2 separate regions of the Homo sapiens genome follow, and region 1 is linked to region 2. A link means that fine-mapping ties the variant in region 2 to the expression of a gene that starts in the linked region. Tissue or cell type: whole blood. Region 2 holds a variant in brackets; the other region holds the start of a gene. All regions are shown on one strand. Distances are from middle to middle.

Evidence for each region. PIP is the estimated chance that this variant, and not a neighbour inherited with it, causes the effect.
Region 1: HEXIM1 starts here. The variant in region 2 is fine-mapped to the expression of HEXIM1 in whole blood (INTERVAL, PIP 0.92).

The regions. Positions count from the first base shown.
Region 1 is chr17:45,146,986-45,149,596 of GRCh38, forward strand. HEXIM1 (HEXIM P-TEFb complex subunit 1) reads left to right here and starts at 1,490. Exons shown (of 1, transcript NM_006460.3): 1 at 1,490-2,611. The coding sequence starts at 2,206. RefSeq lists enhancers at 593-1,475, 1,879-1,928, 1,979-2,028, 2,079-2,188, 2,593-2,611.
Region 2 is chr17:45,172,461-45,175,211 of GRCh38, forward strand. No RefSeq gene overlaps it. Among named protein-coding and RNA genes, the nearest start is that of HEXIM2-AS2, 2.4 kb to the left of the region's middle. RefSeq lists enhancers at 1-792, 793-1,750. The variant A/G (reference allele first, on the strand shown) is at 1,106.

The DNA.
Region 1 (2,611 bases), 26 kb before region 2:
ACGTGCTGGAATGTCAGGGATGCTATTAAGGAAGCAATAAGAAGAAAGGGTCACTGGGTGTGTGGCGAAGGAGAAGTGGAAAGGGCGCCAAGATTTTAGGCCTCAGTGACTGGTATGGAGGGTTCTCTGGGTCCTCTCAGTCCCTGTTTATGGAGGGCTGGGGGCTTGGGTCTAGAGAATTTCTCTCTGAGAAACTACGCCCCCGGGGGAATCGGCCCCCCCAGCCCTGCGCCAGAATCCCCTGCAGCAAGTTTCGGAGCAAGGCCTCCTCCATGCTTCCCTCCCAGTCTTGCCCAGCGCCCACTGATGAGGAAGGGCCTCTGCGGGTGAGACCTGCTTCCCTCTCGGATAGCCAGGGCTGATGATTTCAACTCATTAATCATTCCGAACTCTTCCCAACAAACAGCCTCATGGCTGTCCCGGACCTCCTCTGTCCCGGCTCAGGAAATGATCTCGGTCGGAAGTGAAAAGACCAAATCGGCCCCAGGAGGCCATTTTCTTCGACAGAAGCTGAGGCGTGGGGGCGTGGCCTTCCCCCGCTTCCCCCTCCACTCCCCCGCCCGCCCCCGGCCCCGGCTTTCCGATCTCGGCCCAGGGAAGAGCCTTGGTCGCGAATCACCAGTTTGCATTTGCCCCTGGGGCGGGGGCGGCTTTCTGAGACCAGGCTGGGGCTGGGACTCCGCCACCTTCAGCTAAGGGTACCGAGGTCAGTCCGGGAGTCGCGTCACCGGGACTCGAACCCGCCTCTTCGTCTTCCGAGGCCTAGTGCGAGCCTGCGGCGCTAAACGCAGTCACACTGTCCCTTTAAGGCGGCACTTTTTATTCTTCATTTGTTTACTTCTTCATGCGCTCTTCGGTCTTTACAAAATGTGCTCGCGATATCCTTCCGCAAGTGTCAGTCTCAGGCACTCACCACCCGCCTTGAAGCCATTTCTATAATCTTAAGACTCGCGAGTTAGCAGCCGTGGGCCGACGTCTCTCTTTATAGGATTTAATTCTTTTACATTTTAGGGACTACTTTTTAGGAATAAACCATTCTTGCGTTAGTTAATAAAGGTTCATAACCTTCGGAACCCCTCCGCTGAGAACAAAATACGATAATAGCCTTTATAACGCACCTTTTCATAAAAATATTCTGTGAGGACTCTCATAGGCCATCGAATCTTCTCGTATTCCTGAAACAGAATGGTACGGTCCAGAACCCGCCCCATCTTCTCTGCGATTGGCCGTCCTTCCTCAGCGAGTCGTGTGATTTTTCACCAATGGCCGCTCGCGTTTCTTTAGCGAGGTCTAAGCGATGGAAGGTGGCGGCCAGGGAGACGCCCCCTACGCGTCCTGGGATTGGCTACGTCGCACGGCGCGCGAGGGCGGCGGGCCCGAAAGATAAGAACTACGACTCCCGGCGCCCCGCAAAGGGAACTCCGTTACGCATGCGCACGGGCGGGGCGAAAAAGCTTCTATATAAAAGGGGCGCAGAGGACTGGGAGACAGCAGTTGGAAGTTGGCAGGTGGAGAGGCAGGTTGGGAGGGAAAGTCGGGGGAGGACGCGGAAGAGGAGCTGTGGGAAGGGGGAGGAGGGAGGGAGGAAAAGAGGAGGAGGCGGAGGAGAACTGAGCAGAGCAGAGCATCGAGCCAAAGGGGAGATGAGTTTGTCTGTCCTCTGCTGAGGCTACGGCCGGGCCTAGGGAACTGGGAGCTTGGGTGGAAGCGACACCCGTGGAAGTGGGAGGAGGTGGCGCCGGGACTTTAACCCCTTGTGGGCTCTGCGGCAGGGGATTTAACCCTTTGTGGATCTGGCCCCTCGGAGGCAGCGTCATCGGTAGTTTTAACCCCTTCGGGGCTGGGTTTCACGCACTGGACTTACCCTCATCACCTTGCTCACCAACTCCTTTATTGGGGTGCTCCGCTTGGAGGTTTGAGGCCCACCTCCGCCCATTACGTACTGTTCCTGCCGCTGCACCCCCTTGGACCCGCTAGCTGGCCGCACTGTGGGCGCTTAACCCTTTACTGACTTGAGCTCCCCAGATTGCAGTTGGAGTTTGCTGATAGAAGGACTAGCTAAAGGCGTCACTGCAGGAATTACAAACTGAAGAGGACTCTGTTGGACTGTTTTTTTTTTCTTTTTCTTTTTTTTAAGAAAAACCCATTTTTTTCCTTAAGGACTTACTAGCCAAAATTTCTTAAACTTCGAGGACTCTACTAGCCATGGCCGAGCCATTCTTGTCAGAATATCAACACCAGCCTCAAACTAGCAACTGTACAGGTGCTGCTGCTGTCCAGGAAGAGCTGAACCCTGAGCGCCCCCCAGGCGCGGAGGAGCGGGTGCCCGAGGAGGACAGTAGGTGGCAATCGAGAGCGTTCCCCCAGTTGGGTGGCCGTCCGGGGCCGGAGGGGGAAGGGAGCCTGGAATCCCAACCACCTCCCTTGCAGACCCAGGCCTGTCCAGAATCTAGCTGCCTGAGAGAGGGCGAGAAGGGCCAGAATGGGGACGACTCGTCCGCTGGCGGCGACTTCCCGCCGCCGGCAGAAGTGGAACCGACGCCCGAGGCCGAGCTGCTCGCCCAGCCTTGTCATGACTCCGAGGCCAGTAAGTTGGGGGCTCCTGCCGCAG
Region 2 (2,751 bases):
CAATAGGGTCAGAGTATGAGGGAGAGGGGTAGGCAGAGATTGGTGGGCTGGGGCAGGAAGAAGCTGCCAGGGAGTGGGGGGAGGGGGTCCAAAGGGAAGTAACGGTATTGGGGGGAAAGGTGGCCAGGTCCCATTGCCCTTGTTGGGAACAGGCAAGTGTGGCACTGGCCCTTTAAGTGGGGGTGCCAGTCAGTGCCCTCCCCCAACCAACCCAATTCATGGGCACACTGAGCATGTGCAGGGGCTGTGCATGTGGGGAGGGGAGGAGAGGGGAGGGGAGAGGGGGGCATACATTCCGGAGGGAGCTTCTCATCCCCCTACTTCCGGTAGCTGCCCCCACTCTCCTTCCTGGGTCTGACAAAGGAGCCCATGGTGCTCACCCAATCCCTTCCCCCACCCCAGGCCCCAGGGGGTGCTGCCCTCTGCAAGTGCTGAAGCTGCCATGGGTGCTGGGCAGGCCCTCTCTGCCCTGGGGAGTCTCCTGGCCGCCTGGAGGTGGCACACATGCAGCCCAGTGCCGGCCTCACTTCCCTGGTGTGGGCGGCGGCGAATCTTCCTGCTGCCTACGTGTTCCATTTCATTCCATTGGTGCCAGGGTTTTTAAAAGAACCATCCACCTGTGATGCCACTTTGAAAGTGAAACAGCTCAAAGGATGCAGGCCCTACCCCCTAACCAGGACCTTCCAGTCAGAGAGGAAGCAAACAGCCCAGAGGCTGCAAGGGCCTTCCTTGAATCCCGCTCCTTCTGCTTCTCCCCTGCTGGCCAAGGGATCAAAGTCAGCTTCCTCCAGACTACCTTCACCTGCAGCCTGGGACCTTCCCTCAAACCTTTCCACCACCTAAACCTTACCTGTTTCTGCCAAGTCTTCCCCTCTCCCAGCCCTCAGCCCCTCCTGTTACCACCCCTACCTCTTTAGCACTTGTCCACTCTTAGCTACTGGTACCATTCTTTTTATTTTTTATTTATTTATTTTTTTTTGAGACAGAGTCTCACTGTTGCTCAGGCTGGAGTGCAGTGGTGCGATCTCAGCTCACTGCAACCTCTGCCCCCCCAGGTTCAAGCAATTCTCCTGCCTCAGCCTCCCGAGTAGCTGGGATTACGGGC[A/G]CCTGCCACGACGCCCAGCTTATTTTTGTATTTTTAGTAGAGACGGGTTTACATCCTGTTGGCCAGGCTGGTCTCAAAAACTCCTGACCTCAGGTGATCTGCCCATCTCAGCCTCCCAAAGTGCTGGGATTATAGGCATGAGCCACCATGCCCAGCTTATTTTTCATTCTTTTTTTGTTTGTTGTTTTGGTTTTTGAGACGCAGTTTCACTCTTGTTGCCCAGGCTGGAGTGCAATGGCGCAGTCTCAGCTCACTGCAACCTCCGCCTCCCAGGTTCAAGCAATTCTCCTGCCTCAGCCTCCGATGTAGCTGGGATTACAGGTGCCCGCCACCATGCCCAGCTAGTTTTTGTATTTTTAGTAGAGACAGAGTTTCAGCCTGTTGGCCAGGCTGGTCTCAAAAACTCCTGGCCAGGCGCAGTGGCTCACGCCTGTAATCCCAGCACTTTGGGAGGCTGAGGTGGGCGGATCACGAGGTCAGGAGATCGAGACCATCCTGGCTAACACTGTGAAACACTGTCTCTACTGAAAATACAAAAAAATAACCGGGTGTGCTGGCGGGCGCCTGTAGTCCCAGCTACCGGGAGGCTGAGGCAGGAGAATGGCATGAACCTGGGAGGCGGAGCTTGCAGTGAGCCGAGATCGCGCCACTGCACTCCAGCCTGGGCGACAGAGCCAGACTCCGTCTCAAAAAAAAAAAAAACAAAAAACTCCTGACCTCAGGTGATCCGTCCACCTTGGCCTCCCAAAGTGCCAGGATTAAAGGCGTGAGCCACCGCACCCAGCCTATTTTTCATTCTTGAAGTGAAATTTACATGCCACAAAATCACCCCTTTAAAAGTGAACAAAGGGCGGGTGTGGGTGGCTCATGCCTGTAATCCCAGCACTTTGGGAGGCTGAGGTGGGCGGATTACCTGAGGTCAGGAGTTCGAGACCAGCCTGGCCAACAGGGTGAAACCCCATCTCTACTAAAAAATATAAAAATTAAGTCAGGCACGCTGGCTCACACCTGTAATCCCAGCACTTTGGGAGGCCAAAGCAAGTGGATCATGAGGTCAGTAGTTTGAGACCAGCATGACCAACATGGTGAAACCCCGTCTCTACTAAAAATACAAAAATTAGCCGGGTGTGGTGGCGTGCACCTGTAATCCCAGCTACTCAGGAGGCTGAGGCAGGAGAATCACTTGAACCCGGGAGGTGGAGGTTGCAGTGAGCTGAGATCGCACCACTGCACTCCAGCCTGGGCAGCAGAGTGAGACTCCGTCTCAAAAAAACAAAAAAAAAAAAAAAGAAAAAAGAAAAAAAATTAGTTGAGCGTGGCGGCATGTGCCTATAATCCCAGCTTCTTGGGAGGCTGAGGCAGGACAATCTCTTGAACCCAGGAGGCGGAGGTTGCAGTGAGCCGAGATCGCACCACTGTACTCCAGCCTGGGCGACAGAGCGAGACTCCTTTTAAAAAAAAAAAAAAAGAAAAGAAAAAAAGTGAATAAGGCCAGGGCATGGTGGCTCACATGTGTAATCCCAGCACTTTGAGAGGCCCAGGTGGGAAGATTGCTTGAGCCCGAGTTCGAGACCAACCTGTGCAACATGATGAGACCCTGTCTCTACCAAAAAAAAAAAAAAACAACCAAACAAAACATTCAGGTG